3 separate regions of the Homo sapiens genome follow, and regions 1 and 2 are each linked to region 3. Evidence: fine-mapped expression QTL. A gene starts in region 3. Each other region holds a variant in brackets. All regions are shown on one strand. Distances are from middle to middle.

Evidence for each region.
Region 1: its variant is fine-mapped to the expression of DIAPH1 in lung (TOPMed, PIP above 0.99). The same link has a PIP of 0.9 or more in whole blood.
Region 2: its variant is fine-mapped to the expression of DIAPH1 in whole blood (INTERVAL, PIP above 0.99).

The regions. Positions count from the first base shown.
Region 1 is chr5:141,401,418-141,412,135 of GRCh38, reverse strand. The region is part of intron 1 of PCDHGA1 (protocadherin gamma subfamily A, 1); the gene reads right to left. All of the region lies in intron 1 of PCDHGA2 (protocadherin gamma subfamily A, 2), which reads right to left. All of the region lies in intron 1 of PCDHGA3 (protocadherin gamma subfamily A, 3), which reads right to left. The region is part of intron 1 of PCDHGB1 (protocadherin gamma subfamily B, 1); the gene reads right to left. It also overlaps PCDHGA4, PCDHGB2, PCDHGA5, PCDHGB3, PCDHGA6 and PCDHGA7, and 6 more genes. RefSeq lists an enhancer at 3,657-3,706. The variant T/C (reference allele first, on the strand shown) is at 5,138.
Region 2 is chr5:141,633,184-141,643,901 of GRCh38, reverse strand. HDAC3 (histone deacetylase 3) reads left to right here and starts at 7,053. Exons shown (of 15, transcript NM_003883.4): 1 at 7,053-7,166; 2 at 7,272-7,354; 3 at 8,949-9,091. The coding sequence starts at 7,112. It overlaps RELL2 (RELT like 2), which reads right to left and starts at 6,905. Exons shown (of 7, transcript NM_173828.5): 1 at 5,493-6,905; 2 at 5,042-5,107; 3 at 4,881-4,947; 4 at 4,253-4,438; 5 at 3,607-3,982; 6 at 3,457-3,490; 7 at 2,838-3,231. The coding sequence starts at 5,676. The coding sequence ends at 3,458. FCHSD1 (FCH and double SH3 domains 1) reads left to right here. Exons shown (of 20, transcript NM_033449.3): 18 at 814-901; 19 at 2,145-2,200; 20 at 2,339-4,600. The coding sequence ends at 2,404. RefSeq lists enhancers at 5,497-5,616, 6,317-6,366, 9,604-9,733 and silencers at 6,877-7,166, 7,227-7,276, 7,286-7,580. The variant C/T (reference allele first, on the strand shown) is at 4,145.
Region 3 is chr5:141,614,444-141,625,161 of GRCh38, reverse strand. It overlaps DIAPH1 (diaphanous related formin 1), which reads left to right and starts at 6,162. Exons shown (of 28, transcript NM_005219.5): 1 at 6,162-6,364. The coding sequence starts at 6,248. It overlaps HDAC3 (histone deacetylase 3), which reads left to right. Exons shown (of 15, transcript NM_003883.4): 15 at 3,625-4,281. The coding sequence ends at 3,694. RefSeq lists silencers at 5,808-6,467, 6,528-6,577, 6,388-6,584.

The sequences.
Region 1 (10,718 bases), 210 kb after region 3:
GAGGCCAAAGTCCAGTGGTTCACATATCTTCAACTGTGTGTGCCCATCAACCCAGTAGCAATTGTTCCCTCAAATGCAAAGGGTATAGAAGTTCACTTCTTTCACACAGAGAACAGGATGTTCAGAAGTGTTTATGTCACTATGCCTTCCAAGTATAGAACTCTTCAAAGATTTTATCTTTTTTCTTCAAAAATCTTCTATCAGAGAATCAGAGACAGAGACTGAGTGCAAAGGCAATAGTATTTCATTTATTTCTTAGAAATGTCTTTTTTTTTTGAGACAGGGTCTCACTCTGTCACCTAGACAGCTCACTGCAGCCTAGACTTCCTGGGCTCAAGCGATTCTCCCACCACAGCCACCAGAGTAGCTGAGACCACAGGCATGTGCCACCACACCCTGCTAATTTTTAAATGTTCTGTAGCGATGGAGTCTCCCTGTGTTGCCCAGGCTGGTCTCAAATTCCTGCGCTCAAGAGATTCTCCACCTCCACCTCCCAAAGTGCTGGGATTACAGCACACTTGGCCCTGCCTGCATATTTATTTATTTATTTTAGAGACAGGGTCGCACTCTGTCGCCCAGGCTGGAGTGCAGTGGCAAGATCAGGGCTCACTGCAACCTTGACCTCCCAGGACCAAGCAATCCACCCAGCTCAGCCTCCCAAGTAGCTGGGACCACAGGGGAATGCTACCACACTCTGCTAATGTTTTTTTTTGTTGTTGTTGTTTTAGTAGAGATGGGGGGTCTCCCTATATTGCCCAGGCTGGTCTCAATTCTTGGGCTCAAGTGATACTTTCCGATTCAGCCTATCAAAGTGCTGTGATTATAGGTGTGAGCCACTGGGCCTGTCTTCTGAATATTTTTAGGCTTTAAAAATATATAAATAAGATATCGTAAATTCACTAAGTCTTCGCAAATTTGAATAGATAGGTTACTTGTTTGTTTTCTTAGATGCCAAGACCACTGCTTCTGTTCGATAGTCAGAACTTGACAAAATATTGTGGCTCACGCCTGTAATCCCAGCACTTTGAGAGGCCAAGGTGGGAGGATCACGAGGACAGGAGTTTCTGAACAGCCTGGTCGACATAGTGAAACCCCATGTCTACTAAAAATACAAAAAATTTAGCTGTGGTGAGGGGCACCAGTAATCCCAGCTACTTGGGAGGCTGAGGCAGGAGAATCGCTTGAACCCAGAAGGCGGAGGTTGCAGTGAGCAGAGATCACGCCACTGCACTCCAGCCTAGGCAACAGTGCGAGACTCCATCTCAAAAAAAAAAAAAAAAAAAAAAGACAAAGACAAAATATCTTCAGTCTGGTGACATTATTTTACAAAAAGATAGAGCAACTTATGAACCAAATACATAGTGAAAACTATAATTGAAAAAACATTGAGAAAATATTGTAAAAAGCTATGGATTTTAAACATATGATTCTAGATATGAAAATAAAGTAGTATGCCTAAAATATGAGAAACTAGTAGACTATTAGATAAATCACACACAAAAAAGAGAAACTCACCGAAGTCAGAGTCTCAGGATGTGAAGTCAAATCCTCCCCACCATGAGGTGGAATTAAGGCTCCAGGAGAAACACTGCAAACCATGTCTTCATTGGAATGTAGGGGCACACTGCATTTTAGGAAATTAAACTCTTTTGTACCCGTATGTGCAATGCACAGATTATAAGAATAAGGCAAAGTCCCCTCACTGTAGTTGGGGGGAACTACAGGTCCAGACTTGACACAGAGACCAGGATGGAAGCAGTCCCAAGTAGCAGGGCTGAGAGAGCGTCGCAGGCGCAAGGCAATGGCCAGAATCACGGCGAGGAGGAAGAGCACTGAGATTAAGGCCAAGGCCACCACCAGGTAAAACTGCAGTTCAGCCTGGGGGTCAGAGAGTACAGGGCGGTCGCTGAGGTCTGGCAGTATCTCTTGCAAGTTGTCTGCGAAGACCAGATGAAGCGTGGCGGTGGCAGAGAGTGGCGGCTGTCCACCGTCACGCACAGCGACCAGCAGGCGCTGGCGGGCTGCGTCCCTGTCGCCTAAGGCTCGAGCCGTGCGCACCTCCCCAGTGCGCAGCCCCAGGCTGAAGAGTCCGGGCTCACTGGCCTGCAGCACGTGGTAGGACAGCCAGGCGTTGTGTCCCGAGTCGGCGTCCACCGCTACCACCTTAGTCACTAGGTAGCCGGGCTCTGCAGAGCGAGGTACCATATCGAAGAACGCGGAGCCGTCAGGACCCAGAGCTGGGTACAGCACCCGCGGTGCGTTGTCATTGCGGTCTCCCACCAACACGCGCAGGCTCACGTTGGCGCTGAGCGTGGGCGAGCCGTGGTCGCGGGCCTGCAGCGTGAGCGCGAAGGCGCGCAGCTGCTCGTGATCAAAGGCGCGCTGCGCGAACACCACCCCGCTCTGCGCGCTCACTGACACGTATGACGACACCGCCAGGGGCTCTAGGTCACTCGCCACTATAGAGTAGGAGATGTGGCCATTGAGCCCCAAATCCGGGTCAGAGGCGCTCACTTGCGCAATGGAGGCTCCTGGCGGGTTGTTCTCGGCCACGTGGACCACGTAGGACGTCTGGTCGAAAACTGGGGCGTTGTCGTTGATGTCAGCGACATACAAGGTGATGCTTCTACTGGAAGAAAGAGGCGGCTTGCCCCTGTCAGTGGCTACGATGGTGACATTGTATTCTGGTGTCTGCTCTCGGTCCAGGGCTCCATCTGTCACCAGTTTGTAGTAGTTATTGGAAGAAGAATAAATCTTGAATGGAATGTCTGTTTCTATATTACACCTGACTTCTCCATTTCCTCCGAAATCCAGATCCCGTGTTTTGAAGAGGGCAACAACCATTCCTGGAGGTGAATTCTCCAAAATCTGATCAGAGAGAGAAGTGATGATTATTTCTGGGCTGTTGTCGTTTTCATCAAGGATTTCTATGATTACTTTACACTGGGTAGAGAGACCACCTCCGTCCTTCGCTTCCACTTCCATGGTGTACCTTTCTACATCTTCAAAATCAAATGACTGGTTATTCTTAATCATACCTGTTTTCTCATCCAATGAGAACATATGTTTTGTGCTCTGGGCAGTGCTTCGGAAGTAGTAGTTTATCTCAGCATTGACCCCCTCATCCTGGTCAGTGGCTGTCACTTGCAACACAGGGGACCCAGGGGGCAGATTTTCACTAAGACTAATTCTATATTCGTCTCTGCTGAAAACCGGGGGGTTATCATTGGTATCCTTGACAGAAATTTCTATGTGAGCGGTGGCACTTCTTGGTGGGTCCCCTCCGTCCAAGGCAGTCAATATCAAGCTATGAGATCTCTGTTCTTCCCGGTCTAGGAGTTTCTCCAGAGATAACTCTGGGTATTTGCCACCATCGGAATTAACTCTAACCATTAATGAAAAATAAGGATTAGAGTTTATCTTATAATCTTTAATTGAGTTTATGTTTATATCAGGATCCGTGGCAGGGTCAAGCGATAGTCGTGTACCAGCGGATGCAGATTCGAAAATTTCTAAATGTATTTCCTTTTTATCAAATTGAGGGGCGTGGTCATTAACATCCTCAATCACCACAATGACATGAAAAATATTTAAAGGATTTTCCACCACAGCTTCCAATTGCAACTCACATCTTCTTCTCTCTTTGCATATTTGCTCACGGTCTATTCGGTTCTTCACAAGTAAGTCCCCGCTCTCCGCGTCTACGCTGAAGTGCAGCTTCTCCGCGCTCACTCGCAGCTTGCGAGCCGACACATCCAGGACACTGAGCCCTAGATCCTTAGCGAGGTTCCCCACCACCGAGCCCTTGGCCAGCTCCTCCGGAATCGAGTAGCGGATCGGCTCACTCAGGGTGGGGTAGAACAAAGGCAGCAGCAAAGGAAATAGCACCTGCCGCGGGCCGGCCCGGCGCCTCTGCGCGCAGCTCCCTCCCATCGTTCGCTCGGGTTCTCGCTGGGTCCCCGCTTTTCCAGTTGGAGAAAGTGCACTCTACCGCGCTAAAAGAGCATTCGGCCCAGGACAGGAGGAGTCCCGGGTCTCGGAGCTGGCAATCCGCTGTGCTGGGAAAGGTCTGCGCAGCCGGGAGGCTCTGTGTGGGAGCTGGTTTTCTTCTTTCTGTTGTTGGCTGCGCAGGGAATCCCAGGCCAGAGGCTGACGGATCCCCGGCGTCAGCGCTTGCTCTGCACTGGCCGACAGCGGCGCCCAGAGGCTCCGTGCGGGACAGCAGCCCGGTTTTTCATTTTGAATTCGGTCTCCGAAATGTATATATTCTTCGAAAATGCAGGTGTACATCCCCCTCAAATTTTGCTCTCACCATAATATTATAGTAGATATTTCTATGCTTTGTGTTTTAAATAAATCTATTATGCACAATTTCAAACTTATACAACAGTAGGGAGTATATATAGTGAACCTTCACATAGCCATCACCCCACCTTCAACAATGATCACCACAAAGCCAATCTTTGTTTAATATATACTGCGCTCCCCCATTATTTTTAAGTAATACGAGATATAGAATGTCAACCAATGCTTCTTTTTAAGATGAGACATTAAGGTCAAGAATTTTATCTTTCAGCTTATGTTCTACAATCTGTTACCAATGCACAATAAGTTAAGTCCTACATAGCCTAAGAAAAACAGAAATAAAGATTTTCCATACTCCATTCAGTCATCTGTCTGGTGAGCCTCGTGTTCTGGTTTTAAGGGCAAGAGACATTTTTGTGGTATCGAATAGTAACTACCTACCATGACATACAAGCCTTCATGGATATCTGTTATGTTTTCCCCAAATTAACATACATTTCAATATTTATAAATACTAAGTATGAAGGCTACTCCTCAGAACAGAAATTGTAACAATTTTCTTGTTGCATGGTTAAAAATATGAGCCTGAAGTATGCTTTATTTTTTTTGCTACCCACTTAAGGGGGAAAACGTGTTTGAAATAATTAAAATGTCTGTATGTCATAAAGGATTCCCAGACACTTCAGCTTTTTTTTCTTAAAAATAAAGCAACTGAAACCCAAATAATTACAAACAAATAAAACAATTCTTCATTTCCACAGAAATGCCAGCAGTCATCAGTGTATCTATGGATCACATGTTTAGCATAGAATTTTGAGTCAACTTCAAAGCT[T/C]ATTTTCAAATGTCTTGTGAAATGTTATTTACTATTTGAAACAACACTATGTTTAAAATAACATTAAATAATACATTATTCTCTTCCTTATAGCTAAAAACAGTAAAATAGTTTTAGAATCTTCCCAGCAGTTCCTGAGAATATTTTCTTAAATTATATCTGATATGCAAGTTCATTTCTAGACTCAAAAGTTGGAGAATTGAGCCAGAAATAATATATAAGTGAGAGAAATATTTTTAATTCCTTGTTTTGTCATTTCACAGTGTCCAGTCTTAGAAACTTCTCTTGAGCAAGCATATACTATAGAAAAGAAGAATGTCCTACTATTCTCCATAATTTAACATTAAAGCATTAGGAAATTAAGACCTTTGAAGATATGAGAATAAAAGATGTGACAACTTTCACCATTAAAGGGAAAAAATTGGTTTACTAGGGTTTGGAAGTGGATAACTGAAGTTTGAATCTTCGTCAGAAAATATCTGTAAACACAAACAGACTTTACACACTTGTGATCTGAAAAATATAACCTCAAAGAGGTGTTTTCCTGTCATAGAAATGGAAGAATAGAAGCAATAAATCTGGGCTTTCAGCTGTTTCTCTAAGAAGAATACATTTACCTTTTTATCAGTTTACCCTTACAAACATAGTATGACCTGAATAAATGATCGTAGGAGTAAGAATTTGCTGGGTGAGGTGGTTCACACCTCACCCAGTGCTTTGGGAAACTGAAGCAGGAAGATCGTTTGAGACCAGTCTGGGCAACATAGCTTGCTAGCCCTCCCACCTCAGTCCTAGCTACTGTGAAGGCTGAGGTGGGAGGATTGCATAAGCCCAGGAGATTGAGACTGCAGTAAGCTTTACCCACACCACTGCATTCCACCCTGGACAACAGAATGACACCCCCATCTCTTAAAAAAAAAAAAAAAGGAGTAAGAATTTTATGATATGAGTCCACTGCAACCAATGAAGCAACCCTACCCAAAAAGCCCACATCAATGCAGGCTGAGAGCTACCCCATGAAGTATGGTTTACGTTGACAGCAGGTTAATTATTATGAGAACATGAAAGTTATATCAGCAAATATAACTAATAAATGCCTCCTTTCAGTGTTGGAGCAACAATTAGGCCCAGTGAAAAGTGATGAGAAACACACTGATATCAACTTATACTACCTTAAGTACAGACAGTTAAAGAGAAAGCTAACTATAATAGAAAGTTAAGGGCCAGGCGCAGTGGCTCACGCCTGTAATCCCAGTGCTTTGGGAGGCTGAGGTGGGTGGATCACTTGAGGTTAGGAATTCAAGACCAGCCTGGCCAACATGGTGACACCCCGTCTCTACTAAAAACACACAAAAAATTAGCCGGGCGTGGTGGCACGTGCCTGTAGTCCCAGTTATTCTACTTGGGAGGCCTGTAGTCCCAGCTACTCTACTCTAGTCCCAGCTACTCTACTTGGGAGGCTGAGGCAGGAGAATCGCTTGAATTTGGGAGGCGGAGGTTGCAATGAGCCGAGATCACACCACTGCATTCCAGCCTGGGTAACAGAGTAAGACTCTGTCTCAAAAACAAAACAAAACAAAAAACAAAAAAAGAAAAGAAAGAAAGAAAAAAAATGAACTCACCGGAACCAAAGGGGTGTCTTCTATAGGAAACTTGGAATCAACAGAGACGCACAAAGGCTCATTTTTCTCACAGCTCTGCTGGCTGATGAGTGTGTCTGCATAGTTGGGCTGGGGGAAGATCAGGTGACTCTTCCTTGAGTCAGCGGTGAGGGAGAACTCCTGAGAATAGGTCTGTAGGAAAGCTCGAACCCCATCTACACCCACAAAGTGTGAGGTGGGCACACCAGCCAACCCATCACTGGTAGCCCGCAGCAGATGCGAGGAGTGCCAGTGCCTCAGCCTGAGGGCCAGCAGCGTGATAACGAAGGTGAGGAAGACACAGGAGACGACTGCCACAGCCACAACGAGGTAGAGGGTAAGGTCTGAGGCCTCCAGGTCTGCAGGGATCTGAAGACTGCCCAGGTCAGCCAGGATGTCTGGGATGCTGTCAGCTATGGCTACTGTGAGCGTGACAGTGGCCGAGAGAGGGGGCTGGCCATGGTCCTGTACAGCCACCACAAGGCTCTGTTTGAGCGCATCTCTATCTAGCAGGGCCCGAGCTGTGCGCACTTCACCTGTGTGCAGCCCCACCGAGAAGAGCCCTGGCTCACTGGCCTTGAATAGGCGGTAGGAGAGCCAAGCATTCTGGCCTGAGTCTCTGTCCACTGCCACCACCTTGGTCACCAGGTAGCCAGGCTCTGCAGAGCGGGGTGCCAGCTCCACACCAGTAGAACCATCAGTGGGGAGGGCAGGGTACAGGATTTCTGGGGCATTGTCATTCTGGTCCAAAACAAACAGTCTCAATGACACATTGCTGCTAAGTGGTGGGCTTCCACTGTCACTTGCCGTCACCTGCATTTGCAAATCTCTAAACTGCTCATAGTCAAAGGAGCACAGAGCATACAGCACACCAGTGTCTGAGTTAATAGAGACATAGGTGGAGAGAGGAGACCCTTGGATGGTATCCTCTGCCAAGGAGTAAATAACTCTAGAATTCTCATTGCTATCAGGGTCATAGGCAATCACGGAGAAGATGGAAGTACCTCTGGCGTTGTTTTCCGGGAGGTAGACTGAGTAGGAGGCTTGAGAGAAAGCAGGTGGATTATCATTGATGTCAGTCACTTGCAGGGTGATGTGAATTTCTGTGGACAGGGGCGGAGTTCCTCTGTCTGTTGCAGTCACCGTGATATTATATTCTGAGGCTTTTTCTCGGTCAAGAATTTGGGCCGTCAACAATCTGTAATAATCTTCTTCTGAATTTTCTAATGTAAAAGATAGATTCTCCTGGATAGAACAGACAACTTGACCATTCTTCCCGGAGTCTCGGTCATGAGCATTGAAAAGAAGAATTACTGTTCCCTGAGGTGCGTCTTCTCTCACTGGGCTAAACAGAGATGTAATGGTCACTTCAGGTCTATTGTCATTTACATCTTCCACCGAAATGAGCACTTTTGTCCACCCTTTCAATCCCCCACCATCTTCAGCTTGTATTTCCATTTCATAAAATGAACATTCTTCATAATCTAGACTTTTTGCTGTTGATATTTCCCCAGTATTTTCATTAAGCTGGAATAGCAGAGATTGTTTTTCATTAATTTTCCAGAATTTGTATGCCACTTTTCCGTTGATTCCCTCATCCAGGTCGCTGGCTGTTGCAGTAAGCAGCCAGGTGCCTGGGGGCACGTTCTCAAGGACTTTAACTCGGTAAATCCGTTGAGCAAAAACCGGGGCATTATCATTTGTATCCAACACTGTCACATGGATGCGCACTGTGCTGGAGCGACGCGGCTCGCCGCCATCCGAGGCCGTGAGGACCAGGTGGTGGGCAGTTGCCTCCTCCCTGTCCAGGGCGCGCTCCAGCACCAGCTCTGGGTTTATGGCTCCATTGTCTCCAGTCTGCACGTTCAGGGAGAAGTGGTGATTGGGGCTGAGCTGGTAGCTCTGGAGGGAGTTCACGCCAACATCCGGATCAATAGCTTCTGGAAGTGGATAACGTGCTCCAGGAACCGCGATTTCGTTAATTTTTACTTCCAGACTTTCGGCCTGGAACTTTGGGGCGCTGTCGTTAATATCAGTTACTTCTATTTCTATTCCGTACAGTTTCACTCTGTCTTCAACCAGGACTTTAAAGTTCACCAGACACCGCGGGCTCTGAGCACAGAGCTCCTCCCGGTCTATCCTACCCGCGGTGACCAAGGTGCCGCTGCGCGGGTTCAGAGAGAAAAGCTGCGTCCTACCTCTAGAGACGATGCGGACTCGGCGCTCCGCCAGCTCCCGGGGCTCCAGAGCCAGGTCCTTGGAGATGTTGCCCACAATATAGCCCTTTTCTGTCTCTTCAGGCACTGAGTAGCGAATCTGACTGGCCCTGGCCTCCCATAGCATCCCCAGGAGCGAGCATAGCAGGACTAATCTTCCGCGGAGCTGGCATTTGGTTGGAGCTGCCATTGCTGCCTCGCTTTGGAATTTTCTCAAAAGGATCTCTGTGCGCGCTGCTTCATCAGGTTCTTTCTTCCACCCTGCAAAGTATGGTGATCTTTTCCTTAGAAGAAAGAGGCTGAGTTTTGCTGCAGCCTGGGAGCAGGTTTGTGGTATCTGCCGGGTTTTGTGTAGCCGCAGAACTGGAAATCCGGATGGAGTCCTGATTTTCGCTTAGAGTTGATCAACAGCGGCGCTCAGAGTCCTAAGCCGTTACTACACCCACTGATGTGTAACATTATATCAGATGGCTGATAAAGAAAACACTACTCTCTTCTAATTATGATTTTAGATTTCTCCAATTGTTTCTTGCATTTGTATTTCAAAAGCAATCTATTTTTTAGATATCTGAGTTGTAAATAAAGTGGAATAAAATTTCTGTAAGTGTATTATAAAATCACAAACCATTGCTTAATATTAATTTATTCTTATTCTTGGTAGAACTTTGCACTCTATTTCTAGATATGTAAACTATTATAATTTCCTTTTTATGATGCTTCAATTTTTTCTGTGTATCTTAACAATTTTCTGAAGTAATTTTTATGTGCAATCTTGTTTGGAAGTACATTCATTTTTAATTTTTATACCTATATATTTGTAAATGTAAAATATATAATTGTATTAATACATATATAAGGATAGATTATCCACTTTGAAATTATTTTCTGGGGTTTATTTTGATGATAAAATTCCTGGAAAAACGTTTATTTTAAATTTTTGTATTATAAAAGTAATATTAATTCAGCAATAGTTACAGATGTTCTCGCCTAATATTGCTAAATATTAACAGGATTAAAGTTGGAAATTTTCACATTTTTGTAATTGCTTAAACTTTTCTGCTATTTCAAAAATGCTTAGTTTTTTAATGTGAATATGTAATGCATGCACAGACTGTGTTTCAATGATTCAAATGCATATACACTGAAAAGCAAGTTTCTATTTTAATCCTTCATCAATAAATTATGCAATTTTAAAGTGGTCTTAAACATTATTCTAAGCATCACTTAAACTTATATAATAATTTGGGAAAAAGAACACAAAATATACAACAAAGAAAACTACTGAAAGGTTAAAAGTAAGTGGTATTATAAGAAATCTCAGCACTTTGTAAGGAACCCATTTACTGAATCACATACTAAGGGAAACCAAGCAAAAGACTTATACCATGTAATGGGAGCTTTGTATGTACACAAGACTAGTAGTTTTTGTCTTAAAAATGGAATAATCCTGTATTCACCTTCCATCCTACAAGGATGTTGAGAAAACATCCAGTCATTTATATTTAAAGCTCCAAACGATAAGACAAATCCGGTGTCTTTTTCCCCTTCTTCAAGAATATGTCAGGATTCCGAGCAAGAGAAATTCAGGCAATAGCATTTCCTTTTTTTTGTAAGTTTCTTCTGGTAATTATATAGAGGTGGAAAAGGATTTTGCATCCAAGAAAACCTGGATAAACTTAGAAAATTATTTGGATGATTTGGACCTTCTAAGTTCAGTGAATCAGT
Region 2 (10,718 bases), 19 kb before region 3:
ACTGTCATAATTAGAGATAATCGAGGTAAAGCCTTCTTCTTTTTTTTTTTTTTGAGACAGAGTTTCGCTCTTGTTGCCCAGGCTGGAGTGCAATGGTGCGATCTCAGCTCACCGCAACCTCTGCCTCCCGGGTTCAAACGATTCTCCTGTATCAGCCCCTCGAGTAGCTGGGATTACAGGCACGTGCTGCCACGCCCGGCTAATTTTCTATTTTTAGTAGATACAGGGTTTCTCCATTTGGTCAGGCTGGTCTCAAACTCCTGACCTCAGGTGATCCACCTGCCTTGGCCTCCCAATGTGCTGGGATTATAGGCATGAGCCACTGCGCCCCGCCGAGGCAAAGCCTTTAGTGCAGTGGAATGCAGAAGGTGTTTCAATATAAGATATCTGTTGTTATAATGTATATACATACAGCAGAAAGAGAATAGGAGTGGGCATCAGGAGAACTGGGTTCTAGCCAGCACTCTGCCAATAACTGGCTTCGTGATTTTGGACAGCTGGCTTAACCTGGGTCTCACTTCTAACATAGGAGTCATATTATTAAAAATGCCTACCTCATGGGGTAGTGGTGAGGATTGAATGAATTGGTACACGTGAAGTGCTAGCAGAACACTTGAGACATAGTAAACATAAGCGTTCAATACATATTGGCTGTTGAAATATTTGTCAGCTACACCCCCCCACCGAATGCAAGCATTTGGCCACTTCCTGTATTGAGAAGTGATGAGGAAGGAACTGGAGATGGGATGAGAGGAAAAGCTGGTAAAACCTCCCCACATGCCAGGAATAACTCTGTGCCCACCCCACCTCCAGATGCTGCCGTCCCCTTCTCCTCCCAGCTTCTCCCCACCTGCACCTACCTCTGTGTTGGATGGGCCCCCTGCACCTGTCCTGCCTGGGGGTGAGTGGAAGGAACTGGGAGCCTTGGGAGGCTAACAGACAGGAAGAAGGAGGAAGCTTGGACTCCCAGGTCACGCTCTGGTCCTCTCCGTGCCTTCAGGCATCTTGCTTGGTGGAGAGCACTTGCCTGGGCTCTGGAGCCAGGCTGACTGGTTCAGGTCCCGCTCTGTCATCTCCAAGTGTGTGGTGGGATTCTGAACCTGTCTTGGCCTCAGTTTATGTTCTTTATGAGGTAAGGAAAAGGTACTAGCTTATTGAATTCTTATGAGAGTTAAAAAAGATGCCTGTGGACTACACAGCATTGTGCCTGGCACACAGTAAGTATGCAGTCACTGTTATTATTTTAAAAATTAGCTAACTTCTCTCACGGTGTCCTCCCAATATGCACCTTTTGCTCCTAGTGTCCAGATACCTAGCTTTGTATCATTATTTTTTCTGATGCCCACTTTTTTTCTTTTTTAAATGTCTATAGCAGTTTTATTTTATTATTTATTTTAGATTCAGGAGGTACATGTGCTTGTTTGTCATATGGATATATTGCATACTGGTGGAGATTGGGCTTCTAGTGTACCTGTAACTCAAATAGTGAACATTGTACCTGATAGGTAATTTTTCAACCCTCGCCCCTGCCTCTACTCCTACCTTTGCCCCCTTTGGAGTCCTGGGAGTCTGTTATTTCCATCTCTATGTCCATGTGTACCCGTTGTTTAGCTCCCACTTATAAGTGAGAACATGCAATATTTGGTTTTCTGTTTCTGAGTTAGTTCACTTAGGATAATGGCATCCAACTCCATTCATGTTGCTGCAGAGGACATGATTTCATTCTTTTTTATGGCTGTGGAATGCCTGCCTTTTCTAAAACTTTCTGGTACTTCCACCTTGTCCACAAGGAGTCTCCCTCCCTGGAGTTACCACCATCTCCACCACCCCAAGTTCACTTTGCATGACTTAGCACTTAGTCATTTATTGTGTTTGTTGAGGTTTCATTATTGGTTTCTTGACAGCCATTGGGGGTGGGAGCACTATGCATCCTATCTCCCTTAGTTTTGTACCTTGAGCAGAGCTGATTATACAGCAGTTGCCCAATAAATGTTGAGGACAGTGGATAGAGTGATGGATTTTATGGTCTAGGATGGTGACCATTAATTTAACAAATATTTATAGAATGCCACTGTCCTAAGTGCTGGAGATACAGCATTGAACAAAACAAAGTCTGAAGACTGACTTGTGGTTCTTATTTCCAGACAAAGCCCTGGACTTCCCTGGGTTCCTGGACATGATGGCACCTCGACTCAGGCCGGTAAGGGCCCTTGCCTTGGAGGAGATTGTATGTAGAGGGGTTATTCCAACCAGTCCTGTTTTGTCTGCAGGGCTGAGGGAATAGACAGGGATACCCTTAAGGGAGAACTCTGGAGCACTAACTGTGTGTTCCCTACAGATGCGTCCACCACCTCCCCCGCCGGCTAAAGCCCCGGATCCTGGCCACCCAGATCCCCTCACCTGAAGGCCAGGGAAGCCTTGACCCCCAGTGATGCTGCTGTCCCTATCTTCAAGCTGTCAGACCACACCATCAATGATCCAGAGCAACACAGCCAAAAGCTGGAATCGCCCTTATTTCCACCCTCACCTCCAAGGGTGGAAACTTGCCCCTTCCCATTTCTAGAGCTGGAACCCACTCCTTTTTTTCCCATTGTTCTATCATCTCTAGGACCGGAACTACCTTCTCTTCTGTCATGACCCTATCTAGGGTGGTGAAATGCCTGAAATCTCTGGGGCTGGAAACCATCCATCAAGGTCTCTAGTAGTTCTGGCCCACCTCTTTCCCCACCCTGGCTCCATGACCCACCCCACTCTGGATGCCAGGGTCACTGGGGTTGGGCTGGGGAGAGGAACAGGCCTTGGGAATCAGGAGCTGGAGCCAGGATGCGAAGCAGCTGTAATGGTCTGAGCGGATTTATTGACAATGAATAAAGGGCACGAAGGCCAGGCCAGGGCCTGGGCCTCTTGTGCTAAGAGGGCAGGGGGCCTACGGTGCTATTGCTTTAGGGGCCCACCACGGGCAGGGGCCTGCTCCCAGCTGCCACGCTCTATCATATGGAGCGAGGTGTTGGGGAAGGCGGGGCAGGCAGCCTGTTGCAGGCAGGGGAAGGAGAAGAGACTGAGGGGCTGTGACCTCTCCTGAGGCCCCCAGCCTGAGACTGTGCAACTCCAGGTGGAAGTAGAGCTGGTCCCTCAGCTGGGGGGCAGTGCTGTCCAGTGGAGGGGAGGGCTTTCACGCCCACCCACCCCCTGGCCCTGCCAGCTGGTAGTCCATCAGCACAATGAAGGAGACTTGGAGAAGAGGAAGAATAACACTGTTGCTTCCTGTTCAAGCTGTGTCCAGCTTTTCCCCTGGGGCTCCAGGACCTTCCCTACCTCCACCACCAAACCAAGGGATTTATAGCAAAGGCTAAGCCTGCAGTTTACTCGGGGGGTTCAGGGAGCCGAAAGGCTTAAATAGTTTAAGTAGGTGATGGGAAGATGAGATTACCTCATTTAGGGCTCAGGCAGACTCACCTCACATACTCCCTGCTCCCTGTGGTAGAGACACCTGAGAGAAAGGGGAGGGGTCAACAATGAGAGACCAGGAGTAGGTCCTATCAGTGCCCCCCAGAGTAGAGAGCAATAAGAGCCCAGCCCAGTGCAGTCCCGGCTGTGTTTTCCTACCTGGTGATCAGAAGTGTCTGGTTTGCTTGGCTGCCCATTTGCCTCTTGAGTGGGCAGCCCTGGGCTTGGGCCCCTCCCTCCGGCCCTCAGTGTTGGCTCTGCAGAAGCTCTGGGGTTCCCTTCAAGTGCACGAGGGGTTAGGCTGCTGTCCCTGAGTCCTCCATTCTGTACTGGGGGGCTGGCTAGGACCTGGGGCTGTGGCCTCTCAGGGGGCAGCCTCTCCATGGCAGGCATCCCTGCCTTGGGCTGCCCTCCCCCAGACCCCTGACCACCCCCTGGGTCCTGTCCCCCACCAGAGCCCCAGCTCCTGTCTGTGGGGGAGCCATCACGGTGTTCGTGCAGTCCATAGCGCTTCTCAATGTGTGTCACCCGGAACCTGGGAGGGGAGGGAACACTGGGGTTTAGGACCACAACTCAGAGGCTGCTTGGCCCTCCCCTCTGACCAGGGACATCCTGAGTTTGGTGGCTACTTCCCTCTGGCCTAAGGTAGGGGAGGCCTTCTCAGATTGTGGGGCACATTGTGTAGCCTGACTTCTGC[C/T]GGAGCTCCCAGTCCAGGAGGAAAGAGCCAAGGCCCACTTTTGGGATCAGGTGCCTGATCACTGGGCCCCCTACCTCAGCCCCCCTTTCCCTGGAGCACCTGCCCCACCTGCCCACAGAGAACACAGTGGTCTCCCCTGTCCGGGGGCGGCTTTTTCCTTCCTTGGAGCGTCCCTGACGGACAAGTGGAGGCCTCTTGCTGCGGCTGCAATGGAGGCAAGGGGCTGCAGAGCCCAGGTGCACTGTGTGATGATGGGAGGGGGCTCCGTCCTGCAGGCTGGAGGTGGCATCCACACTGGACAGCAGGGAGGAGGGGAGTGAGGGTAACATTTCCATTTCCCTTCATGTTTTGTTTCTTACGTTCTTTCAGCATGCTCCTTAAAACCCCAGAAGCCCCAATTTCCCCAAGCCCCATTTTTTCTTGTCTTTATCTAATAAACTCAATATTAAGATGTTAGTGACCATATGTTCTTCCTCCCAGGGCTGTTTGCTAAAAAGAACACTGCTTAACCCAAAGGAGTGGCACTAGAGGTGAATGTTAGGCTTGATGATATCTAGATGAGAGAGATGGTTTGAAGGAATCGCGATTTCTACAAAACAACTTTCTTCCTATAAGTTAGCCAGCTTTGCCCTTCCCCCAACCCCATACATGCAAGGAGGCTGGGAGAGGATTGTGCTGGAGGAGAGGATACTCTCCAAGGCAAGCTAAGTCATGCTGGCCCTTGTTTCCAGCTCACCTGGACAGCTGCACTGTCCCTTCTCCTTCACTGTCCCCCAGCATCTCCTTCAAGGCCTCAGCATTGGCTGAGGGAAGAAGGAAAAGAGGGAGTCAGTGGAGGTGGAGGTCAGGGCAAGAGAAGGTTGGAGAAGAGGGAGCAAGGGGCTATGCTAGACCCACCTTCATTCTGGATGATGCAGCGAACAATCCTCTCTACTGTGTCCTCATTCATGTCATCGTCCTCAGCTGAAGGATGAAAGAGATTGGCAAGGAAGCAGGAATGAGTCAGCTTTGGGGGAATATTACCTGGTGGCTCCCATCATTTATTGCTTAGGACATACCCTTTTACCTACTTGCTATCATGCTGGACCTCAGCATTTCAGGGACCAGAAAAGATGGGGACACCAATGCAAGCCCAAGACTACCATCCAGAGGACCGTTCCTGCCCATGCTGCTTTCTCTAGTTTTGCTTTCAGAGTGGTGTCACCCCACTTGCTAACTCAAGAGTGCATCACTAGGCTTCCTGAGCAGGTTTGATCAGGATTTGGCCTGGGTCTGTTGGTCAGGGAGGCAGAGGTGTGGGGAGAAGGGTGAAAGGTGACTGAGCCAGGGTTCCAGGCTCCTCACTCACGGGGCTGAAGCTGGGCATCGTCAGGCTCAGAGCCCCTCGACGTGCGGCAGCGGTAGCCCTTCTTCTTGAGCACGTGGCAGATCATGAAGCCTACCAGGCCCATGAGGAAGAAGACCAGCACAAGCAGGAAGAGCATATATAGCCCATGTTGGGGCGGTTCCAGGTCAGGCTGTGGTTCCGACATGAGGCCCTGGGGGGCGAGCGCGGGCCAGGGCGCCTCCTGGGTTTAGGGGGCTGCAGCTGGGAATGGGGGAGGGGTAGGAATGCCGTCCTCAGGATCTGAAACAAGCACGTCTAAGACGTCCGGCTGAGGTCCGGCCCCACCCCCTACCCAACCAGGGAGCTGTCCGGGCCAGGAGTGCTGTTTCGCCTTTCGGCAAGAGGTCAGCGGCAACGCAAGCTCTCTACCACGACCCTGGTCCCGCTTCCCCGACGCCCCGAGCGTTCCCCTTTCCAGCTTGTTCGCGCTTCTGTCCCTCCCAAGGACACTGCAGCACGAGATGGGACGGCATTCTTAGGCGGCGGGAGCAGAAATCCTGCCTGAGTCAGCGCCCGCACCTCCTCCACGCCGGCCTGAGCCAGGCCTCTGCAGCCCCTTCCTCTCAGTACTCCCGCACCCCTCTCCCTTTTTGGTTTCTCCCACCCTGACCACCTGGCCGACCCGGTACCGGTGATTTGGTTCTGGTTCCGGCTTCTGCTGGGGTTCCGGCTCCAGGGGCGTCCTAGTGCGGCTCAGGGCCCCCGACGCCCTTCCGGCGCTCATCCCTTGATTCCTCCCCTCCCCCTTCGCCGCCTCACCGGCCCCGGGCTGTGGCTGCGGATACCCGCGCCGTGGCAGGCGGGGGGAGGGAAGAACAGAGAAGGATGCGGGCTGGCTGAGAGCGGTGGCAGGCTCCGGGCAACTCCGGCCCTGGGTCAGGGAGATCGCCTCCGCAGCCGCCCTGGCTTCCCAAATGCCTTCACCCGTCGCGGGCCCAGGACCAGGGGGCGGAGCGCAGGTGTGCGGGGCGGAGAGCGTGAGCTCTGCGCGCGCGTGACTGCGCCGGGCCCCCCCGGGGCAATGTGCGGCGCCGAGTCTGGGTCCGGGTAGGGGACAGGCGGTCCGGCGTGGGTGTTGTCCACTGGTCTATCCGGTACGCCTGGCGCAGCTCCTGCCCTCAGATGCCCCGACCGAGCGGAGAGTCAGGAATCTTCTCCGAGGGCTGGGGGAAGCCGGCTTTCCGCACCTTTGAGGGACGGAGTGGCGGGATCTTCGGAGCTTCCTAGAGAAGTGACCACGGCCTGCGCCCGGTTTGGGGCAAGCGGCTGGATGGGATGGCTCGGCTTCCCGAGGATCTGACCCCCGGCCGGAGACAAATGGCCCTCGCATCCTAGGAGCTATGCTGCCAGTTCCCTGCCCAACCCGGGACGCTCAAAGCCCCAGATACCGGGAGAGCTGAGCCGGGCGAGGGGCGGAGCTCCCCTGGGGGCGTGGCCTGGGTGTGGATGGAGGCGGGGCCGCAACGCCCAGTTCCGCAGAGGCCGGCTACGTGCTTGCGCAGCACGCACGGCCGGGGAGGGGCTGGCGGCGGCCGCGGGCGGCGGGCGGCGGAGGTGCGGGGCCTGCTCCCGCCGGCACCATGGCCAAGACCGTGGCCTATTTCTACGACCCCGACGTGGGCAACTTCCACTACGGTGAGGAAACAGGGATATGCATGAGGGGTTGGGACACGGAGGTTTTGAGGCGGGGTTGCAACTCCAGGGGTGAGAGCTGACGAACTCTCTTCTCCCCACCCCCAGGAGCTGGACACCCTATGAAGCCCCATCGCCTGGCATTGACCCATAGCCTGGTCCTGCATTACGGTCTCTATAAGAAGATGATCGTGAGTTCCGCCGCCTCGGCCGGGGGTTGGGGGGTGGGGCGAGCTGTGGCCGTAGGGATAGGTGGGCTGGACTGAGTGCATGAAGTGCGACCCGCCCCTAGAGTATCGGGGAGCTGGATAGAAGTCACCAGGAGTACCTTGAAAGTGCAGGGTGTTGGGGGTGGCGTCCTCTGCTTAATGGAAAGTACTTTCTCACCTCAGGTCGGCCACCCTCTGACTGTAGGCACACTAGCCCTTGGCCTAGGGTTAGCGTGATGTGGGGCTGGTTTGAAGACAGAAGGTGTGTTCCTCCTCTGCATTTTAGAGTGTGGATAGGGCCTTGGCCTCAGGAATTAGGGTTAGGGGAGCGGATATCACTGTATCAGGGTGTGAGGTTTACCCTCAGTTCCCACTCCTCTTTTACCACCTTTCTTTACCTCCAAGGAGCTAGGGCTCCAGGGTGGAACGATGCTGCCGTCTTTGTAAATGTGTATGTGCGTGTGGAACAGAGGCGATATTTTAGATATTCCTTTTTCAGCCTGGAATACCTCTACATGGTTCTGCTTAATCGCTATCCAGTTTTTCATCTACCAGACATACACATGCTGTCTTCCCAGCTTGGAATTTATGGCTGTGATATGGGATAGTAACAGTTAAGCCACGCCAGGCGTGGTGGCCCATGCCTGTAATCCCAGCACTTTGGGAGGTTGAAATGGGGGGGATCGCTTGAGGCCAGGAGTTGGAGACCAGCTTGGGCCACAGTGGGACCCACATCTACAAAAAATAAAAATAAAAAAAGTAGCCATGTGCGGTGGGTGTGCCTGTAGTCCCAACTACTTGGGAGGCCGAGGCGAGAGGATGGCTTGGGCCCAGGAGTTTAAAGTTACAGTGATCTATGATCAGCAGCCTGAGTTGACAGGGAGGACCTTGTCTCAAAAGAAAAAATAAGACAAAACAGCTAAACCCAGGCTTTATGTGTTGCTAGGGAAACTAGTGAACAATATGAATGAATGTTCATTGCTTGTGCCAAGGCACAGACAAATGGACTGGTCATAGAAAAGACTGAGGTGATGTTAGTGCAGGAATCTATATCCCTTGAGATTGTTTGCCTGTATGTACCTGTGTGCATTTTCTGGGAGAAGAAAAGCTCTTTCTTGTGCAGTTTTCAAAGAGGTGTGACACATCCCCCTGACCTTCCAAAGATAATAAATCTTTGATTTTAATTAGAAAGTTGACATATATCCCATATATTTGACTCCAGAAAGAAGAATCCAGAGGAAAGAGGACAGAATCAGAGCTTGGGGGAGGAGATGAGCATGGAGAGAACTGGGAATAGGAGATTCCAAGGAACAGGGCAGGTGGATCAGGGCTCAAAGTTGAGAAGGTACGATAGGCTGAGCTGGAGGTGGAAAGGAAAAGAAGTGGTCTTCAGGGGGCTCATTTGTAATAACTTACCTGGTTAATCGGAGTCTCTCTACTGACTTAAGGATTGTGGGATGAGGGGAATGCTATGTTTGGCTTCATATAGTCTCCAGGACTGGGTTCAGTATGGGTGGTCTGAGCCTGTGGAGTGGGGCTGACCCTGCCTGGGTTCATCTTGTGTCTCCATCCCGAGGTCTTCAAGCCATACCAGGCCTCCCAACATGACATGTGCCGCTTCCACTCCGAGGACTACATTGACTTCCTGCAGAGAGTCAGCCCCACCAATATGCAAGGCTTCACCAAGAGTCTTAATGCCTTCAACGTAGGCGATGACTGGTGAGGGAGGACTGGGAGTTTTGATGTCTAACAGTTTAATGCCAAGCCCTTCAGTGAGGTCTTTTGGCAGCAGTGGGAAGATCTCAAGGGGGGCCTACTTGTCAATGCATCATAATTCATTTTATTTGTTTATTCAATAAATATTTATTGGTCACTTGTTCTAGGCAGGCCCTGTGCTAAGTGCTGGGAATGCAGTGATGAACAAAAACAAAATTTTAATATCGTATTTTTGCTAAGTCTTATAAAGAGGAGGTGTATGACAGATTATGAGAGTGTATACGTGGAGGATTGTTTAGCTTGGTGGAGTGGCTGGTCGGTGGGGCCTTCCTAGAGGAAGTAAAGATTGAGCTGAGATCTGAAAAAAGAGTAGAAGTAATCAGATGAAAGATGGTTGGAGGGTGAGGGGAGAAGTATAGCAGGCAGTAGGGACAAGTGCTAAGGGTCTGTGGTAGGACTGAGTATGACTCATTTGAGGAACAGAAAAAAGGCCAAGTGCAGAGTATGAAGAGGAGGTGAACTGAATTGAGGCTAAAGAAATAGGACCTTTTAAAAGCAAACAGCTCTATTATGAATTGGGGTTTTTACCCGTAGAGTAGAGGGAAGCTATCAAAGTGTTTTAAAAAGCAAGGGATCTTAAGAGGGCTATGGGCAGTTAAAAAAACAAAAAAAACAACGAAGGAGTGGTTTGATATCATTAGGTTTACATTGAGCTTGTATCATCCATAGAAGAGTCAGGGTTAGACCCTCTGGGGAAGAGAGTGGACAACAAAGATAAGCCACACTCTACTCTATATCCATGAAAAAATAGTAACCATCACAGCTACCAGTTGCTCAATTCTACTTACTTTTGTTTTTAAACTTTTTATTAGGGAAAATTTCAAAAATTTCTGAAAGTGAAGTAGTGCAGTGACCTCCCATACGTCCATCACCTAGCTTCAACGCTTATGAGCAAATGGCCACTCTTTTTTTTTTTTTTTTTTTTTTTGAGACAGAGTCTCACTCTGTAGCCCAGGCTGGAGTGCAGTGGTGCAGTCTTGGCTCACTGCAACCTCTGCCTCCTGGGTTCAAGCGATTCTCATGCCTCAGACTCCCGAGTAGCTGGGATTACAGGCGCCTGCCACCATGCCTGGCTAATTTTTGTATGTTTAGTAGAGATGGGGTTTCACTATGTTGGTCAGGCTGGTTTTGAACTCCTGACCTCAGGTGATCCACCAGCCTCAGCCTCCAAAAGTGCTGGGATTACAGACGTGAGCCATCGCACCCAGCTGAGCAAGTGGCCACTCTTACTTCATCTATACTCCCTCATGTTAGATTGTTTTAAAGCAGATCCTAGATGTTATATCCTTTTATCCATAAATATTTTATTATGTATCTCTAAATGATACTCTTTTAAAAAAACATAGTATCATTATCAAACCTAAAAAGTTAACAGTGATTCCTTAATGTCATCAAATATGGGATCAATATTCAAATTTCTGCAGTTGTCTCATAATTATTTTGTAGCTAATTTAAATCCAGATCTAAACAAGGTCTATACAGTGCATTTGGTTGATATGTCTCTTAAGACTTTTAATTTGTAGCTTTTCTGTCACCCCCTTGAATTTATTTCTTGAAGAAACCAGGTTGT
Region 3 (10,718 bases):
AGGTTTAAAAGGGAAAAAGTAAATGGGAAGGTATTAGTTTAATTGCCTCTGGCTTACCTCCTTTAGTCTGCTACAATTTCCTCACTCTTTTCTTTGTTATTTTTAATGACAAAAGTAACACGTATTTATTGCAAAATTTTAAAACAGCACCAAAATATGGTGTTGGCGTTCACACAATCCCAGACCTATTCCACAGGAGTAACCACTGTTAATAGTTTTTATTGTTTTGGATAGACCTTTTTCTATAGATTGCAAATATACTATTCTGTATGTACATATAAACAAACACATATACACTCATTTACAGTTTGTGTGGTTTTTGGTTTTTCGTAAATACAAATAGGGTCATTCTACGTATGCTGCTTTACATCATATAGCTGTTTTCAGCTAGCTAATATAGATCTGCTTCAGTATTTTATCAGCTGTATAATAATTTACTATGTGGATAGATTATTTTCCATTTTTTTGGTATTACAATAATAATGTGGCAATGAACCCCCTTACATTATACATCTTTGCATTCTTGTTTGAGTGGGTTAGATAGTAGAATGGTTGCTGCTAGGTCAAAGGCTGTGTGCATTAATTTTTTTTTTTTTTTTTTTTTTGAGACAGGGTCTCATTCTGTCACCCAGGCTGGAGTACAGTGGCATGATTATAGCTCACTGCAATCTTGAACTCCTGGGTTCAAGCGATCCTCCTGCCTCAGCCCCTCGAGTAGCTGGAATCATAGGTGTGCACCACGACACCTGGCTAATTTTTTTTTTTTTTTTTTTTTTTTTTTTTTTTTTTGGTAGAGACGGAGTCTTGCCTTGTTGCCCAGGCTGGTCTCAAACTCCTGGGCTCAAATGTCCTCCTGCCCCAGCCTTCCAAAGTGCTGGGATTATAGGCGTGAGCCACTGAGCCTGGCCTAAAATTTTTTATATTTGCTGCCAAATTGCCGTCCAGAAAGTCTGTAGCACCCTATAGTCTTGCCAGCATTTTTCTCAGTCTTTCCAGGTCTTGAGCTGGACAGGTCACTGCCTGCGTAATACTCTCTAAGGCTCTTTGATTTCTTTGCTCTGTTAATTTTTTCGGGTGGGATAATTGCATTGTGGTTATGTTTTTTTTTTTTTTTTAAAAGTCTTTATCTTTCTGAGATACATACAAAATATTTGTAGATGGAATGAATTAGGGGGGAAAAAGGATAGGATGGAATTTTTTTTTAATCCCAAAACTTTGCTGAAAAATGAAAGGGAAAGACAACAGAACCAAGAAGTGCAGAAACAGATGCACTTAATGGGGAACAGATTTCCTTACATGACTGAGGGATAACCACAGCTGGACACTTGTGGGACACGCTGTCTTGCTCCCACGCAGGGTTAGAGGTTTGAGCCGGCTCTGCTGCAGAGCCTGATGGGCTTCTCAGCCCCTTCTAGAATCTGCTTCTGTCTTAGAATTCAGGCCTCCGAATCTCTCCTCTGGACCTGGGCTTTACTGCTCTGACTCTTGGGGATCTCTGCAACTCTCTTCCTCCAAGGATATCCCCCGATCCCTTCTGAGTGAGGAAGTGTCTGAACATCTGGAAGTGTCTGGCTTCAGGGCTTCCAGGACTATTGGAAATTGCTTTTCATTGTCTGGTTTGGTTTGGTAAAACCTGTTTTTAAGTTCTTCCTTTTGGGTTTTTTATCAATAGCTCCAGGCTGGCATCTGGACCTAGTCTCTGCATTATAATAATACCAAGCCCTGTCACAGCCAGCAGAAGCCTCAGGCCTCTTCCTGTTCCTAAGCCCTACCTCTCTGTCAGGCCACCCACTGAGTTTCTGTTCTTCTTTGATGCCTATAGCTCCAGCTTGCATATGACTTGCAGAGTAGAAATAGGAAGAGTTACCACTTTTTGTAGGTTTGCCAAGCACCAGACACTACTAAGTGCTATCTATTACAACATATATATGATCATTCTGTTGCCATCAGACAACTCTGATGGCTCTTATTTTCAGATTAACACGGGAGGAATCTAAGGCTCAGAGAGTCTAAGTAACTTTCTTTCTTTCTTTTTTTTGAGACGGAGTTTCGCTCTTTTTGCCCAGGCTGGAGTGCAATGGCATGATCTCAGCTCACCACAACCTCTGCCTCCCGGGTTCAAGCGATTCTCCTGCCTTAGCCTCCCAAGTAGCTGGATTACAGGCATGAGCCTCCACGCCTGGCTAATTTTTTTTGTATTTTTAGAAGAGATGGGGTTTCTCCATGTTAGTCAGGCTGGTCTCGAACTCCTGACCTCAGGTGATCTGCCTGCCTCGGCCTCCCAAAGTGCTAGGATTACAGGCTACAGGTGTGAGCCACCGCCCCCGGCGAGACTTAAGTAACTTTCTGAAGGTCACATGGCTAGTTAAAGATCAGGGCTGAGATTCAACCTGATTCTCTGACTCCACACCTTTAACCCTGTGCACTTAGAAGTAACTGAGACATTGCTCACCATGCAGATAAGGCCTTTCCTGGCTTAGTGCCTCAGCTTCTCTTTGATGACTTTCTCAATTCTCTGTGTCCCAGAGAATACTTTTTCTTTTCTTTCTTTTTTTTTTTTGAGATGGAGTCTCACTCTGTTGCCAGGCTGGAGTGCAGTGGCTAATCCCGGCTCACTGCAACCTCCGCCTCCCAGGTTCAAGCGATTCTCCTGCCTCAGCCTCCTCAGTAGCTGAGATTACAGGCATGTGCCACCACACCCGGCTAACTTTAGTATTTTTAGTAGAGACGGGGTTTCACCATGTTGGCCAGGATGGTCTTGATCTCTTGACCTTGTGATCCACCTGCCTTGGCCTCCCAAAGTGCTGGGATTACAGGTGTGAGCTACCACGCCCGGCTTTTGAGAATACTTTTTCAAAAAGAAAGAAACCAATATTGAGTACCTGTTGGGCCCTGTTTTGCTTTCACATCCATTCTTTCACTATGGGTTTATAATACCACGTCACTCTTCTTAAAATTAAAACTCTCCTTTACCTTGCACTTAGAAGAAAATCCAAAATTTTGACTGTGGCTTAAAAAGGTCCTGCATGCTAGCCCTTACCTACATCCAGGATCTCATCTCTAACTACTCTCCTCCATGCACAGTGCTCCCGGCTGTCCTGGCCTCCTTGTTCTTACTGGAATACATCAGTCTCTTTCCATTTCATGACCTCTGTAGTTGGTTTTCTTGCAGCTTGGAATGGCCTTCCTGAAGTCTTTGCCTGCTTAGCTCCTCCTCAGACTTTAGGTCTTATGTCCCAATAGTCCTGTCTGAAATTTCACCCTTTTCCTCTCATCACCTTCAGTCCTATCACTTCATTTTATTAATTGTACTCTCCATCATCTGAAATTATTATATTTATTTACTTTGTTAGTTACTAGTCTCATTTATTAGGTAAGCTTTTTGAGGATAGACAACCTTGTCCAGCTTGTTACTCTACTGTATTGCTAAGGTTTATGACAGTGTCTGTATAGAGTAGTTCCTTAATGTTTATTTGATACGTGAATGGGTGAATGAATAGCAGTCTCTACCAACAAGAGGAGGAGTGGTTCTCAACGGGGCCTGAGAAATGGCTTTGGAAAAGGGTGCTGGGAGAAGATTAGAACTTAGAGTGAGATCCTGACCTCTCTCCCCTTGCTTTGCAGGCCAGAGGCACCCAATGAGTTCTATGATGGAGACCATGACAATGACAAGGAAAGCGATGTGGAGATTTAAGAGTGGCTTGGGATGCTGTGTCCCAAGGAATTTCTTTTCACCTCTTGGTTGGGCTGGAGGGAAAAGGAGTGGCTCCTAGAGTCCTGGGGGTCACCCCAGGGCTTTTGCTGACTCTGGGAAAGAGTCTGGAGACCACATTTGGTTCTCGAACCATCTACCTGCTTTTCCTCTCTCTCCCAAGGCCTGACAATGGTACCTATTAGGGATGAGATACAGACAAGGATAGCTATCTGGGACATTATTGGCAGTGGGCCCTGGAGGCCAGTCCCTAGCCCCCCTTGCCCCTTATTTCTTCCCTGCTTCCCTCGAACCCAGAGATTTTTGAGGGATGAACGGGTAGACAAGGACTGAGATTGCCTCTGACTTCCTCCTCCCCTGGGTTCTGACTTCTTCCTCCCCTTGCTTCCAGGGAAGATGAAGAGAGAGAGATTTGGAAGGGGCTCTGGCTCCCTAACACCTGAATCCCAGATGATGGGAAGTATGTTTTCAAGTGTGGGGAGGATATGAAAATGTTCTGTTCTCACTTTTGGCTTTATGTCCATTTTACCACTGTTTTTATCCAATAAACTAAGTCGGTATTTTTTGTACCTTTCGCCTTTCTAGGAATGTTAATTCTTGCTAGTTTCCTATTTATGAAAGGAGAGGGAAATGGGCATGATGATGCATGTAATAAAAGCATAGTTAACATTCATTCAGCACTTATCCTACGTTAGGCCCTGTGTATGTATTCTACATTTATTATTGTAAATATAAGAAGTTAATAGAGGATTTTGGTTAAGAGTTAGACAAACCTGGGCAGATTTGAGAGGAGTAGAAGATGACTTCAGGTTTTTGAATCTGGGTGTTTAGAGTAGTGATGCTAGTTGGTGAAGATACACTGAGATAAAACATGTTAAGTGCTTAGCACAGTGCCTGACAGAAGAAGTTGCCCATTATCTGTCTATGTGAAGAACAATGCTAAATACTGTAGTAGCCACAAACATGAACCTTTCTCTAGAAGAGTTTACATTCCAGTCAGTAGTATGATAAATATTGTAGCAGATACAGACTGATACAAGAAAGAGGACTGATAGATGGGTCACTTCCTCCCCTCCATTCTCTGATTCTGTCTGTTCTCAACACTAGCTTAGAAAGTAGCTTTTGGACTTTTTAGACAAAATGTCTGGAAAGCTCAGCACTAAGTCAAGTTTGAAGTATGGGATGGACAGCTCTATGTAACATTCTATCCGATCACCATCAGAAGGTCTGGACCACAAGAGAGATGAATGCCAAATTTAGGAGCCAGCCAGCTTGGCAGAGTCCCTGGTATATCTCAGGCCCTTGACTAGGTACTGGGGCTCTAGAGTAAGTAAGTCACTGACTCTGCCCTTCAGGAACTTATGCTTGAAATCTTGCTAGCTGTGGTCAAGAATATTCAGTCCATATTGTGAAGGCCGACTGGTAGCCACGTAACTGTCACACAAGGGACAGATGTAGCTGGGAGAATGGATGAAATTGCTTAGGGAGAAAGTCATGCTAGAAGAGCAAAGAATATACTCTTGGAGAATACTCATTCTTTTCACTCATGTTTGGTTTATGTCAGTGGGGAATCCTGGTTAAACATAGGGTTTGGCAGCAAATCAGACTAAGCTGGGTTTAAATTTTATATCAATTATGCGTTCTTGGGCAAGTCACTTCAACTCTCAAAAGTCCAAATTTACTATTTATAAAATGGTGAGGCTAGCAGAATCTATCACATGGGACTGTGGGGACTTAGAAAAATACATGTAGAGTGTTTGCCTAGTGCCTAGCAGAGAGCAAAGGGCATGGTTAAGTGGTAACTGTTATTGCTGTTTAGGCACATGTTGGCAATAATTAGTTTGTCCTGATTAGAAACAATTAGATGGTACCTAACCTGGAATTCGAACTAGGAAATTAAACTCCAGAGCGAGTCTGGTTTAGTCTAGTGCTTGCCCTGGACCGAGCTCTGTTCTTGCTACCTTGCTTTCAAAACATGGTGGCTATCACTATAATTTTTTTCATGTGTTCCATGGGTATTGCACACATTGAAAACTGCATTCTCTTGGAAAACCTGTCACTAATTTTCTGCCAGGATAATGGTCTCACGCGATTTTTGGTCTGGGATGTGAGAGGGTCCAGGCTGTCAGGCTGTACAGCCACGTGGGCGCTGCGTGGGAGCCAGAGGCCTGCGCTGCTCCAACCGCCAGGGGGCGGTGCTCTCCGCCGCGGCCGCGGAGAGCTGCACCGCCCACTCACCACCCCCCCCCACGTGGGTCCGAATGGTTAGGTCCGCTGGGCAGGTAGCGCGCTTCCGCGGCTTCCCTCCGCCCCTCTCCCTTCCCCCATTGGTAGGGGCTGCGGGTCCGGGCGGAAGTGGGGCAGGCGGGCGGGAGCGAGGCGTCGTCGTTGTATATTCATGAGGCGCGCGCAGCCCGGCATGCTAATGAGGCGGGGCGCGGCGGCTGGCTAAAGAGCGACTGGGCGGCGGCGGGCGCGGAGCTGCCAGGCGGGAGCGGCGTAGGCGCGGGGTCGCCGGCCAGCGTGAACCGGGACATGGAGCCGCCCGGCGGGAGCCTGGGGCCCGGCCGCGGGACCCGGGACAAGAAGAAGGGCCGGAGCCCAGATGAGCTGCCCTCGGCGGGCGGCGACGGCGGCAAATCTAAGAAATTTGTGAGTGTCCCTCCCATCCCGCTCCTGCCTGGCCCCGTAACCGCCCTCTGGACCCCTGCAGCCGGCCCCTGGGGCGCCTGCCCGGCTTTGGGGAGCCGCCCCCGCGCCTTCCTTCCTCGTTTCGCTCGGTCCGCAGCTCTGCAGCCCGACATCCTCTCCCTTCGGGACCTCGGGAAGCCCCGGAATCCCACCCGGCTCTTGCCCCGGCCACCTCGGGGCTTCCCTCGTTCCCCAGCCCTTACATTCTGCCCTCCCGCCCGCATATCCCCGGCCGGCTCTCAGCCCCGTCTCTCCCCTCTCAGCCTCACTTCCTTTCTTCTTCCTCCAGTACCCGAACACGCCTCCTCTTTTTTGGTCCCCTCTTCTGGGTCCATTTTCTCTTCTTAACCTTACACCTTTTTTGGTATTCTCGTATTTCCTTCTCCTAAAGGTCACTTCCTTCTCCATGATTCATCCTTTTTACCTGCTAACTTTCCTCCCGCCCAGTCCCCCGTGGGCCCTCCGCCCGGTGTCACTTGATAATCCTTCCCCTGAGGAATGTTACCTGACTTGAGCCCTACCCCCAACTCCTTCTTTGGACGTTTGTCCTTGCGATTACAGGAATGGGCTCCTGCCCAGGTCCTATGGTCACTGGGGCATGACGTTTATTTGTTTACCAGTATTCCTCTCTCCAGAGAACCTCTCTCTTTGCCCTGTTGCTTATCACTTTTCAGAGGATTAGAACTCTCATGATTGTGCCCTTCTTGACCTAGGATGGTGATAAACCTCTCCTGTGGGAAGAAAGTTGGACTGCGAGTTCAAGAAGTTTGTAATTGAATTGTTTTTTATACATTTCCCATGATAACCGTCTCCTCTACTCCTTTTCTACTGCCTCTTGTGCCCCAAGGCGACTATCGGCTTCCCTTTGCGTGCCTGTAGAAGAGTAAGCTTTCCTCAAGTGCCAGTTACTTTCAATCCGAGTGAAGGAATAGTGATATACATGTAACCCTATCATATTTCATTACCTTTTGCCCACACCAACGCCTCTCTCCAGGGAGCCGTTTGGTTGCTTTTTTGCTATAAAAGCTTTGTAAGATACGGGGCACTGTCCAGGAGAGGAAAAGTCTTGGATATTGATGATCATTATAATAGCTAGTTATAACTGTAGCTCTTTTGTCTTCTCTTCCAGGTATTTATGCCCTTACACTAGTGTATCTTTCTACTAAACAAATGGCTTGTAACTCTTAGTCCCACCTCCCAACATTTTGACCCAGCTCCACAAATTTGGGAAGAAAACTGATAAAGCGATGGAAACAGGAAGAAAATGTTGTTTTATGACCTAGAGGGTTGAGATGTTAACCCTGGAGGGTTAGATGTTTAATTCTAAATAGAATTAAAATAGTGACTCATCTCTTCCTATTTCTAGCAAGACCAAGTGCTCCTGGACTGCCCTTTCCAGTGATATCTGAGATGTCAGTAACCATCTGTTTTTATCTGGTGAACATCTTTTTTTCCCCCCCTAGAAATATAAGGTTAAGGGTATTGACACCCCCTCCTTCTTTGGTGACTAAAGCAGCATTTTTGTATGTTTCTTTAGGATAAGAATTGACCCCTCCCCCCCGTTAGCTTTCCTTCCAAAACTTAAGTTCTAGGGCTCATATTCCTTCTATTTCTGTATCTTTTTGTTTTGATTTTATTTCCATGAGTACTGTTTGACCTTCCTCACCCAAATTCCAGCTATTGCTGCTGACTTGTGGTGACCTCAGTGACTTGTTTTCATGTCTTGAGTAGAATTTTATATGTACTCTATTTTATCTAACAATTATTTCACGAACTTGTGAAGTCTACTATGTGTGTGGTACTGTAAGGTGAGAAACCTGAGGAAGCTCAACCCCTTTTCACCTGTCTTTTGGAATGTCCATGAAGTCTTCTATATGTTTAATGGATTTGGCTCAGGGTTGTAGGTATTTGCTTTAGAGAGGATGGAGCTGAACCAAGTTCTCTTTTCTTTCTGCGGTGTTAGTCTTAACCCTTAATCTGCTGAATTTTTAAAACTAAATAGCTCAGGTAATGAGGAAAATTGCATTAGTAGCTACGGAATTGGAAGGTTTCTAGGAAAGTAGTGCTGCTTAACCCTTTTATTGCCAAATGTAACCTATCTCAAGGCATCAGAATATTCTTTCTTCCTCTTGCTCCTTTTATGAGAACTCTGTGGAAATGAGAGATGAGGAGGAGCATTGCAATCCACTTCTCTTTGTGTCTGTGTATGTATACGTGGGTGGGTGGAGTGGGCGAGATTGCTGGTGTGCTTTTGATACCCGTGGCTTAGTTTTCTTGAACTATAGGCTAAAACTGAACTCAAAGGTCTTTCGCCGCCTCCACCTTTTCTAGAGTATGTGTCCTCTGGAACTCCATTAAGAATGTACTGTATAAAACTGCACTGGTTTGGACTAAGTGTGCCCGAAGGTTGTTTGCATTTGAGGGTTTATAATTCCTTTAGCTGCTACATACCTTTCCTGGCTTATGCAGGTTCTAAATACGGATTAACTGGTGAGAACACAGAGCTCACAAATTGTCTGAGATCTGCTCTTACCCTCTGAGGCATCTTGTGTGGAAAGGAGATGGACCCTCAGTTTAAAAGTGGTTGGGCATCATCTTTTAAAAACACATGATTGTTAGACGTGCTGACAGTGAGTGGCTGAAGCCAGGCTGCCTGGTATTACCCCTTGGTTCTTCATGAGTCTGTCTTCTCCTGGGCCATGAGCATACCCCTTCTCCGGCATTATTCCATTTCCTTTCACAAGTCCTTAAGATGAAGGAAAATAAAAATTTTAGGTGAACAGAGGGTTTTCTGACTTTTCAGCAGTGATCAATGTGGGTGTCAAATAGACTGATTTCCAAAATATACGTAAGGGGAATAAGTAGAACCGGGATGTTAGGAGGCTGCAGAGTATTCTTACATTTAATAGACTTTGTATGCACTCTCATATAATCGAGAAAGTGATGCATTGTAAGAGAGAATATTGCTTCCTGATTTAACTAGGAGCATTAGCGAGAATTTTTTTTTTCTTTTTTTGAGATGGAGTCTCGCTCTGTTGCCCAGGCTGGAGTGCAGTGGTGCAATCTCAGCTCACTGCAAGCTCCGCCTCCCGGGTTCATGCCATTCTTCTGCCTCAGCCTCCCCAGTAGCTGGGACTACAGGCACCTGCCACCACGCCTGGCTAATTTTTTTTGTATTTTTAGTAGAGACGGGGTTTCACCGTGTTAGCCAGGATGTTGTCGATCTCCTGACCTCGTGATCTGCCCACCTCGGCCTCCCAAAGTGCTGGGATTACAGGCGTGAGCCACCGCGTGCGGCCCTTTTTTTTTTTTTTTTTTTTTCTTTTTCTGAGACGAGTCTTGCTGTGTCCAAGGCTGCAGTGCAGTGGCGCGATCTCGGCTCACTGCAACCTCCACCTCCCGGGTTCAAGCGATTCTCCTGCCTCAGCCTTCCAAGCAGCTGGGATTACAGGTGTACGCCGCCACACCCAGCTAATTTTTGTATTTTTAGTAGAGACTGGTTTCACCATGTTGGCCAGGCTGGTCTTAAATTCCTGACCTCGTGATCCGCCAGCCTCAGCCTCCCGAAGTGCTGGGATTACAGGCGTGAGCCACCTCGTCCGGCCAAGAGAATGATTTTTACTATTATTAAAATTATTAAAATTAGTTTAATTTTGGATTCCTATATTGAGTTATGATCATGTTGCAGTTACACGGTCTTCTAAATGCAAAGTAATAGAGTATAAATGTTTAGTAGTAGACTCCTGTCCAAAAGGAGACAAATTAAAGGATGCCAGGCAGAAAGAAGTGGAGTTGTTCGTGCAGATTTCTGCTTATATCCTCTTAAAACATTAACTTTAATCCAAAAGTTTGCAGAAAACTGAAAAATATACAGAGAGCTTTGCAAAAGTTTGCAGAAAACTGAAAAATATACAGAGCGCTTTGTACACCTTTTTTTTTTTTTAACAGATGATGAACGCAAGGATTATATAGTTTGGAAAGAGGGAGGGGAGCCTACAGGAACGTTAGTGAGATGTTTGAGATGACAGAATGGTAGCTTAAAGATTTCCGCCATTCTTCCTGCCTTGTCTTAAGGACAGATCATGAGTCTACTTGGTATGGTTACCTGTACTTTTTCAAAGAAAATTCTCCCTCACAGGAGGTGAAAGTGAGGGAATGCCTTAGAATTAAAATCTCTGCCTTGGGAGAGTTGGTAAATTTTTTTAAAAAGCTGAAAATTTTATGACCCGTAAATTATGTTTATTATGAAAGCTAAGAAAATAGTGAGACATGATTTAATTTTGTTGATGGGTGCACGGGTCAGAATAATTTTATT